Regions from separate parts of the Homo sapiens genome. Here region 2 is linked to region 1. Evidence: fine-mapped expression QTL. Tissue or cell type: whole blood. Region 1 holds a variant in brackets; the other region holds the start of a gene. Each region is shown on its reference strand, or each on the opposite one. Region 1 has its middle 24 kb from the start of FOXJ2. Region 2 holds the start of HGD (homogentisate 1,2-dioxygenase).

The links. PIP is the estimated chance that this variant, and not a neighbour inherited with it, causes the effect. A credible set is the group of variants that fine-mapping cannot tell apart.
Region 2: it holds the start of HGD, and the variant in region 1 is the best candidate, but not a certain one, in a credible set for the expression of HGD in whole blood (TOPMed, PIP 0.59).

Annotation. Positions count from the first base shown.
Region 1 is chr12:8,006,338-8,011,721 of GRCh38, reverse strand. No RefSeq gene overlaps it. Among named protein-coding and RNA genes, the nearest start is that of FOXJ2, 24 kb to the left of the region's middle. The variant A/G (reference allele first, on the strand shown) is at 2,218.
Region 2 is chr3:120,679,942-120,685,325 of GRCh38, reverse strand. HGD (homogentisate 1,2-dioxygenase) reads left to right here and starts at 3,087. Exons shown (of 14, transcript NM_000187.4): 1 at 3,087-3,229. The coding sequence starts at 3,215. RABL3 (RAB, member of RAS oncogene family like 3) reads left to right here. Exons shown (of 8, transcript NM_173825.5): 8 at 1-388.

The sequences.
Region 1 (5,384 bases):
GGCTAGTCTCGAACTCCTGACCTCAGGTGATTCGCCCGCCTCGGCCTCCCAAAGTGCTGAGATTACAGGCGTGAGCCAGCACGCCCGGCTTATTCAAGTATTTTTTTCTCTAACAAAGCAATTTACAGGTTAATTTTCTGGGAAGATATAGTAGTTCTTTATGACTCATTCATTCAAATATTTCTCAAGTAGCTATTATACTACAGGCACTGTTGGTGCCTGGGACTGCCCTGATAGAGAAGGAAATGATAAATTCTAAGAAGAAAAATAAAGCAAGATAAGGGGATAAAAAATGGTGGAATGGTTAGAGAGGAAGGATACTGATTATTCTAAATACAGGCACACCTCAGAGATAGTGCAGGTTTGTTTCCAGACAACTGTGATAAAGCTAGTATTCAATAAAGTGAATCATAGAAATATTTTGGCTTCCCAGTGCACGTAAAAGTTATGTTTACACTATACTGTAGTCTGTTAAGGGTACAATAGCATTGTGTCTAAAAAAAATGTATATACCTTAATTTAAAAATACTTTCTTGCGGCCGGGCGTGGGGGCTCACGCCTGTAATCCTAGCACTTTGGGAGGCCAAGGTGCGTGAATCACTTGAGGTCAGGAGTTCAAAACCAGCCTGGCTGACATGGTGAAACCCCGTCTTTACAAAAAATACAAAAAAATTATCTGGGCGTGGTGGCGGGAGCCTGTAATCCCAGCTACTCAGGAGGCTGAGGCCGGAGAATCGCTTGAATCCAGGAGGAGGAGGAGGTTGCAGTGAGCTGACGTCACACCACTACACTCCAGCCTGGGCGACCGAACAAGACTCTATCTCGAAAAAATATAAAAATACAGCCAGGCGCGGTGGCTGACACCTGTAATCCCAGCACTTTGGGAGGCAGAGGCGGGCGGATCACCTGAGGTCAGAAGTTCGAGACCAGCCTGACCAACATGGTGAAACCCCGTCTCTACTAAAATACAAAAAAATTAGCCAGGCGTGGTGGCGCATGCCTGTAATCACAGCTGCTTGTGAGGCTGAGGCAGGAGAATCGCTTGAACGTGGGAGGCGGAGGTTGCAGTGAGCCGAGATTGCACCATTGCACTCCAGCCTGGGTGACGAGCAAAACTCTGTCTCAAAAAAATAAATAAATAGGCCGGGCACAGTGGCTCATGCCTGTAATCTCAGCACTTTGGGAGGCCGAGGCAGGCAGATCACGAGGTCAGGAGAATGAGACCATCCTGGCTAACACAGTGAAACCCCGTCTCAACTAAAAATACAAAAAATTAGCTGTGTGTGGTGGCGGGCGCCTGTAGTCCCAGCTACTCGGGAGGCTGAGGCAGGAGAATGGCATGAACCCGGGAGGCGGAGCTTGCAGTGAGCCAAGATCACGCCATCGCACTCCAGCCTGGCCTACAGAGCGAGACTCCATCTCAAAAATAAATAAATAAATAAATAAATAAATAAATAAATAAATAAAAGTTAAAAATACTTTCTTGCTAAAAAAAAATGCTAACAATCACCTGAGCCTTGAGCGTGTCACAATCTTTTTGCTGGTGGAGGGTCTTGCCTCAACGTTGATGGCTGCTGACTGATCAGGGTCGTGGTCGCCGAAGGCTGGGGGTGGTGGTAGCAATTTCTTTAAATAAGACAATAATAGCCAGGCGCGGTGGCTCACACCTGTAATCCTAGCACTTTGGGAGGCCGAGCGGGGTGGATCACGAGGTCAGGAGATCAAGACCATGCTGGCTAACATGGTGAAACCCCGTGTCTACTAAAAATACAAAAAAAAAAAAAAAATTAGCCAGGCATGGTGGCAGGTGCCTGTAGTCCCAGCTACTCGGGAGGCTAAGGCAAGAGAATGGCGTGAACCCGGGAGGCAGAGCTTGCAGTGAGCTGAGATCGCGCCACTGCACTCCAGACTGGGTGACTGAGCAAGACTCCATCTCAAAATAATAATAAGAAGAAGAAGAAGAATTGCTGCATCTATTAACTCTTATTTTCGCGAAAGAGTTCTCTGAATCATGTGATGCTGTTTGATAGCATTTTCCCCACAGTAGAACTTCTTTCATAATTGGAGTCAGTTCTCTCACACCCTGTTACTGCTTTATTAACTAAATTTATGTAATATTTGAAATCCTTTGTTGCCATTTCAACAATATTCACAGGCTGTTTACTAGGAGTAGATTCCATGTTAAGAACCACTTTCTTTGCTTATCCATAAGAAGCA[A/G]CTCCTCATCCATTCAAGTTTTCTCATGAGATTGCAACAATTCAGCCTTATCTTCAGGCTCCACTTCTAATTCTAGTTCTCTTGCTATTTCTGCAGTTACTTCTGCAGTTACTTCCTCCACTCAAGTCTTGAACCCATCAAAGTCATCCATGAGGGTTGGAATCAACTTCTTCCAAACTCCTGTTAATGTTGATATTTTGAGCTCCTCCCATGAATTATGAATGTTCTTTTTTTAAAAATTTGGTGGTAGGAAATTCTTTTTTTATTTATTTATTTTTGAGGCAGAGTTTCACTCCCATCACGCAGGCTGGAGTGCAGTGGTATGATCACACCATGCCCAGCCAATAAGTTAAGCATTAGAAAAAAAAAAATCAGTAAACCATACTTACTGCAACCTCAACTTCCCAGGCTGAGGTGATCCTCCCACCTCAGCCTCCCATGTAGCTGGGACTACAGGCACCTGCCACTGTGTCCCACCTCTCCCCCGACCTAATTTTTTCTATTTTTAGTAGATACAGGGTTTCACCACGTTGCCCAGGCTGGTCTCAAACTCTCGGACTCAAGCCCAGCTTAGACTCAAGCAAGCAATATGACTGCCTCTGCCTCCCAAAGCATTGGGATTACAGGAATGAGCCACCATGCCTGGCCACAAATGTTCTTAATGGCATCTAGAATGGTGAATCCTCTCCAGAAGATTTTCAATTTATTTTGCCCATATCCATCCAAGAAGTCACTATCTATGGTGGTTATAAGCCATATGAAATATATCTCTTAAATAATAAAACTTGAAAGTCAGAATTACTCCTTGATCTGTGGGCTGCCACCTGAATGCAATATTAACAGGTATGAAAACAACATCAGTCTTCTTGTATGTCTCCATCAAAGCTCTTGGATGACTAGGTGTGTTGCCAGTAAGCAGTAATATGTTGAAAGGAATCTTTTTCTCTGAGCAGTAAATCTAAATATTCAGTAAATTCCAACTTAAAAATGGCAAAATATCTAAATAGACATTTCTCAAAGAAGACATACAAATGTTTATTGCAGCACCATTCACAACAGTCAAGATTTGGAATCAACCTAAGTGTCCATTAACAGATGAATGGGTAAAGAAAATGTGCTCTGTGTGTGTGTGTGTGTGTGTATATATGTGTGTGTGTGTGTGTGTGTGTGTATATATGCACACACACAATGGAGTACTATTCAACCATAAAAAAGAATGAGAACCTGTCATTGGCAACAACGTGGATGAAACTAGAGGCCATCATGTTAAGTGAAATAAGCCAGGCACAGAAAGACAAACTTTACATGTTCTTACTCATTTGTGGGAACTAAACATTAAAACAATTGAACTTATGGAGATAGAGTATATAATGATGATTACTAGAGGCTGAGATCAGTAGTGGAGGCGGGAGGAGTGGGTATGGCTCATGGGTACAAAAATATAGTTAAGCCTGGCCAACTTGGCAAAACCCCGTCTCTACTAAAAATACAAAAAATTAGCCGGGCGTGGTGGTGCACACCTGTAGTCTCAGCTACTCAGGAGGCTGAGGCATGAGAATTGCTTAAACTTGTGAGCCGGAGGTTGCAGTGAGCCAAGATCACATCACTGCACTTCAGCCTGGGTGACAAAACAAGACTGTGTCTCAAATGTGTATATATATATTTAAATAGGGTGAATAAGATGTAGTATTTGATGGCACAACAGGGTGACTACAGTAAACAGTTTATTGTACACTTAAAAATAAAAAGTATAATTGGAAAGTTTGTGACACAAAGAAATCATAAATGCTTGAAGTGATAGATACCTCATTTATCCTGATGTGATTATTACACATTGTATACTTGTATTAAAATATCTCATGTGCCCCATAAATGTATACACCTACTATACACCCATAAAAATTAATTTTTTTAATTGGTGGAGTCTCACTATGTTGCTCAGGCTGGTATCGAACTCCTGGGCTCAAGCAGTCTTCCCACCTCAGCCTCCCAAAGTGCTGGGATTACAGGTGTAAGCCACCATGCCCAGCCAATAAGTTAAAAATTAAAAAAAAAAAAAAAACAATTCAGTAAACCATGCTATAAACAGATATGCTGTCATCCAGGCTTTGTTGTTCCATTTATAGGGCATAAGCCGAGCAGATTTACATAATGAAGCTAATGCCCCTAAAAAGAGAGTCAGCCTATCATTTGAAGCTGTGAAATCAGATATTGACTTCTCCTTCCTGGCTATAAAAGTCCTAGATGGCATCTTCTTCCAATATAAGGCTGTTTCATCTACACTGAAAATCTGTCGTTAAGTGTTGCCACTTTTGTTAATTATCTTAGCTAGATCTTCTGGATAATTTGTTGCAGCTTCTATATCAGCAGGTGCTGCTTCACCTTGCACTTTTAGGTTATAAAGACAGCTTCTTAAATTTCACGAACCAAATTCTGGTACCTTCTAACTTTTCTTCTGCAGCTTCCTCACCTCTCTCAACCTCCATAAAATTAAAGAAAATTGGCTGGGCACAGTGGCTCACGCCTGTAATCCCAGCACTTTGGGAGGCTGAGGCAGGTGGATCACCTGAGGTCAGGAGTTTGAGACCAGCCTGGCCAACATGTCGAAACCCTATGTCTACTGAAAAATACAAAAATTAGCTAGGCATGACAGGCACCTGTAAGCCCAGCTACTTGGGAGGCTGAGGCAGGAGAATCGCTTGAACCCAGGAGGCGGAGGTTGCAGTGAGCCGAGATTGCGCCACTGCACTCCAGCTTGGGCAACAGAGCAAGGCTCCATCTCAAAAAAAAAAAAAAAAAAAATTTAAAGACAGTTAGGGCCCTCCTCTGGATTAGGCTTTGGCTTAAGAGAATGTTTTTTGTTGTTAGTTTGTTTTGTTTTTTTTTTCGAGACAGAGTTTCACTCTTGTTGCCCAGGCTGGAGTGCAATGGCATGATCTTGGCTCACCGCAACCTCCGCCTCCTGGGTGCAAGTGATTCTCCTGCCTCAGGCTCCCAAGTAGCTGGGATTACAGGAATGCACCACCACGTCCGGCTAATTTTGTATTTTTAGTAGAGATGGGACTTCTCCATGTTGGTCAGGCTGGTCTCAAACTCCCGACCTCAGGTGATCCACCCTCCTCAGCCTCCCAAAGTGCTGAGATTACAGGAGTGAGCCACCGTGCCTG
Region 2 (5,384 bases), not on the chromosome of region 1:
GTATATCAGGTAATCTCTCCGTTCCATCTTTTTCTCGGAGACATCTGTCCTGGAGTCCTCTGATGCCTAACTCCGTTTTGGAGTGATTACTCTGTAGACCTGTCACACCCTGCTTCACATTACCTTGTAGCAATTCCTGGATGTAATGTTTTCCACTTTCTATCCAACTCTTACTCTATGGGACTTGGCTCAGACATAGTCTTCTCTGGGAAGCCCTCCCTGGCTCTGCTCGTCTGGGCTACGTGCCCACTAGTGCTTCCCCTAGATCCCTGGGCTCTTTCCTGTCAGAGCACTTACACTATGTTGTGATGGTTTTCAAAAATTGTTAAATAAATGAATGTATAATTACATTAATTAAAATGGAAAGCCATTAGACATAGAATCAGAACTTATCTGTAGCTGTGTAAGTTATTTATTCTCCAATCCCAGCAGGACATGATGGCTTATGCCTGTAATTCCAATACTTTGGGAGGCTGAGGCCAGAGGATGGCTTATGCCTGGGAGTTAAAGGCTGCAGTGAGCTGTGATGATGCCACTGCACTCCAGCTTGGATGACACAGCAAGACTCTGTCTCTAAAAAAAAACATTAAGTCAGGTGCAGGAGTTCACGTCTGTAATCCCAGCACTTTGGGAGGCTGAAGTGGGAGGATTGCTTGAGCCTAGGAGTTCAAGTTCAGCCTGGGCAACATGACGAGACCTCATCTCTACTAAAAAATTTTTAAAGTAGCCGGGTGTGGTGGTGTGTGCCTGTAGTCCCAGCTACTCAGGAGGCTGAGATGGGAGGATCGCTTTAGCCCAGGAGGTTGAGGCTTCAGTGAGCCATTTTTGTGCCACTGCACTCCAGCCTGGATGACAGAGAACCTGTCTCAAAAAAAAAATTAAATAATAAAATAATATTTTAATATCCCCTGTGTGTATTCTCTCCTTTTAGAAGGAATCCCTAAAGTTTAGTGAAAGATGTATTCAACTTTAAATATTTTCAAGCCCCTCAAAGTAATTTTAATCCAGTCAAGGAACTGTTAACACTTTCTTACCCCTTCAGAAGTCTCTCATACCTTAGGAAAGAACTGAAACACTTCTTAAATCTGCCTTCACAACTGGTTCAATGGAAGTAACATAGAAAGTTTGTTGAAAAATAAGGCAGTAAAGATTTCCCTTTGTCTTTTATTAGCTCCCATTTGTTTATCTAATGACCAACTGCTAACTTCCAAGATCAATAGAGATTGAAGGCCCAAGGTACTCATAAACTTAGATACACAGGAGATATTTTCTTCGAATTCAGTTTCAGAGTCTGCATGTTATAGGAATAGTGAAAACTTAGCCTCAATAAAGCTAGGGCCTCCACCTACCTTCCTCCTAGGTTTGCATATGAATTCCAGAATAGTTTATATAATGCCACAATGCCATCTGTCTATGCTGACATATGCTGAGGTTTCCTATCAGCTGCCCGGTCCGTAGGCATCAGTCCACATGGTTTGCTACCAGCATGTTTCCTATCAACATGTCCCCTTTGGTCTGGCCCAGTCTGTGCTAGCACCTCATACACAGGCAATAATTCTGCTGCTACTGCAGTATGCTGGAGCCTGGGGACCCTTGGAGGTTGTTTAAGCCCATTTATCTAAAGCAGAGGGTCTCAAACTAGCAGCCTGTGGCCACTTCAAATATGCACATGTTTTTCAACCTGCATGATTATATCAGTTATTTATCACTGCTTAACAAACCACCCCAAAATTTAGTAGTGTGAAATACACCATTCTATTTGTTCCCAATTCTGTGGCTCAGCAGTTCGGGCCAGATTTAACTGGTGGTTCTTCTGCTGGTCTTGCCTGGGATCACACATGTTCTGCAGTCACCTGGCAGCCAGACTGCCTCATTCACATGTCTGGCAGTTCCTGTGGGGCTTGCAGGGCTGTTGCCTGGACCTCTGGAGGCCAGCCCAGCTTCTCTGCACTGTGGTCTCAGGCTGCAAGAATGGGCCCTGTCCTAAGGCACAGGCATGTTTCAAACTCTGTGTCATGTTTGCTACTAGCCAAAGAAAAAGACCCTACCTCTTGATGGGAGGAACAGCAAAGTCACATTCAAAGGGGCACACATACAAGGATAGGAGGAATTGGAGCATTTTTTGCCATCTACCACAGGGTGGTTTCTCTGTCTCTCTCACTCTAATTACCAATGGTTAAAAATTGGAGCTTCATCTTATCTTGAAAAATCAGCTAGCCTACTTTATTCACTTACACTTCCTCCCTCATCTGTTGGCATTTGAGTTGTGATAATGCCTAATTTACAAGATTGTTTTTGTGAAGTTAGATATGGAAAAATCTGACAAAAGCAGAAACTCAATATATGTTTTCTCCTTTCTGAACACCACTAGTCATGAAGCTGCTACCTGCCAATGACCAAGGAGAGCGGCCAAGATGAAGAACAAGGGAGTCATAGAGGAGGTGGCTGGAGAATAATCCCTTGGTCTGTTTTAGAAGTATAGAGGCATTAGGAAACAAAACTCTTAAAGAATTTATAAGAAAACTAAACGTACTTTAAGAAATTAAAAGGAGCAGTAGGAAACATATCAGTTTGCTCTAAGTGAAATATCTCAGGCTCTGAATGGTTCACCCAAGAACCTGAGCTCATTCCTGGGAGGCACCTGCAGAAAACTGGTTCTGGTCCTGGTCCCTGTCTTCAGGTGGCTGTGTGTAAACATCTTACCCCAGTGTACACATCTGCAGCTGGTAAATGCCTGGGGGTTTTCTCACTGCTCTCCAGGAGACTCAGCACTGCCCTGTTCCTTCCTAGCCTGAGTCAGGACTGAGCAGAGAATCCTCCACCACACACAGCAGGCACTATCTGCCACAGTTCCTTTCCCCGATAGCTTCAAATTCTCTGCCTTTTGAAATAAGCCTACTTTTAACTGGAATAAATAATTGGTCAATCTCTACCTCAGGTGAAGAGGAACCAAGCCTCTGGAAACACTTAGGAACAAACTGTAAAAACCAAAGGCAATTGTGTAACCGGTTAAATAAGCTTGCTGGACTTTGTCCCTGTGTATGAGTTAGACAATTCTTTCAGCTAGTTTGAGTGACGCACTGACCAGTGAAGCGCAGTGAAGCAGTGGGAACCGGAATATCCAAAGAGTGGTTTGAAGGAGAAAGAAGCATTGTGGCTTTATATCCTCTGGGCCTGGGTTTCCTGAAGTCACCACACATAGAGGAGAGAGAAAATGGCTGAGTTAAAGGTAAGAAACCATCTGACAAGTTTGCTATGGCTTCTTCAGCCAAAATTTATGGAAGTTTCTGAGAACTTCAGGGTATCAGAGTTGGAAAAGACTTAGAGAGGCCCTGGTTCAAACCCCTGTGTTCAGAGGCTTCCCTGTGGTGTCTGTGGGCACAGCTGGAGCTGAAGAACAAGGGAAAGGTGATAAAGGAAAGAAATGAAGCTCTTATTGGTCATCCCTTGCCTTTGTTCATTTCAATTATTGTCTTGGAAATCTGTAGACATCCTAAGAGCTCCCCTCCACTACGGACATGCACGTTTCTCTCTATGTCTTTTTCCCAACCCCTGCTCTGACACCTTCCCATTGCTGCAGCCTCATGGACCACTTCCGGTGACCAGTTAGATATGCTTGATCTATTTAGTTAATTAAGGCTCTGAATCAGCCCTTGGCCAGAAGAAGCACCTCCTCTAGGAAATCATTCCTTCTTTTTAGTAATACGCAATTGAAAAGTATGTGTGGGTTATGTGCTGTTAGGTGCTAAGCATTTTAGCTATGAATTAACTCATAATCCTCAAAATAAATCTGGGGTATAGAGAGAGGTTCTTGTTTCAATTAGAAAAGTAATGCTTGGAGAGACTATGATTTGCCCAAGGTCACTGCCAATAGATGACTTGATTAGAAGCAGGGTATGTTTGAATGCGAAGTCCAGGCTCAAAAAGGGGCCTTAGTGGCTCCTACTAGACTGGTATCTTAAGGCAAGGAAAACAGAATATGTCCCTAATATCTAAAACCATGCCTAGTGCCCAGGCCAGGCTTGAATCAATGCTCAACGCATGCATGTGTAACTGAACAGAACTGCCCAGAACCTTGGCTCAGGCCAAGTAGGCCAGACCACCCCACAACAGACATCTTCCCTGAATGCAGGGTTTGAGAAGTGCCCTAATGCCCTCTAACTGATGCTGAGTTTGAAGAATCCATCAGTTAAGGGGAGGTGTTTCTGAGTTTGAAGAATCAAACACCTTCCTAATTGGTAGGAATCCTGAAAACACTCCACACCGGAGTAAAAGACTTTGGTTTTTTATCTTTATGCCTGACTAAAAGTTAACTCTCATTCTTTCATTCAGCAAATATTTTGTGCTAGTGCATGACACTGCAGATTAATATCGTAGATGAACTGAGTCTGGGCTAGGTAGAGTCAAAAAAAAATTTCCTAAAGGAGCCTGTACCTAAACTGAGTCTTCAGAGAGAAGTTGGAACTGGCAAAGTGAGGAAGGACGGGGTCTGGAGGGAAGAGTGAGTGCAAAGGCACAGCACATACAGAATGCCTGCATGCTCTAGAATCCAAAACTGTGTCAGCCAAATTTGAGTTGATGGAGGGACAGCCAAACTGAGATACCCAGGCGGTGGTTGGATTTATGGATCTGGATTTCAGGGGAGTGGGCAGGGCTAGGGGAATAGAACTGAGGGTCATGATGTCAGTGGTAGGAGTTGAAGTCTTGGAAGAAAGAGTAGATAGAAACTTTGTTTTCTGATGAACATTCTATGAGGAAGTTCAGCAGAGGTTGGAAACATCTTTACCATTTATAAATAAATTTTATGTAAAATCCTATCCTGCTGTCATGTTTAAGCAACTTATTATGCACAGCACCAGGACATCAATGTAAATTGCATGCCAGTCTTTGCTCTCAGTTTCAAAGGCATTCTTCCCTGCCTGCTGTCTAATCTTTACAAAGAAAGGTTAACTCCAGAGGTCAGGAATCTGAACACAGAAAACCAGATTGCATCATATTCATTCTAATCAATAAACATTATATAATTTTTAAAACTGTTTCTCATCTTTTATTTCTTCATTTTAATGAATATGTCAACACAAAGCCGTAAATGAAATCACATTTACACAAAAGTACAACTGGGGTAAGAAAATTCAAAAGATAAAGTAATAAAATTAAATTTAAAATGAAATACCCTATGTATTTGAGTAAGTTGCTTAGCTTCTCCCAACCTTGGTTTCCTCATTTCTAAAACGAAGAACTTGCTTAATATTCAGGCTCTGGGCCCCACCACCAAATCCTTGATTCACTGGCTCTGGGTCTGTATGTAACAAGCTTCTGGAGTGATTCTAATGATTAGCCAGAGACAGGACCTACTATTCTACGTAACTGATTTCCTCTTGCTG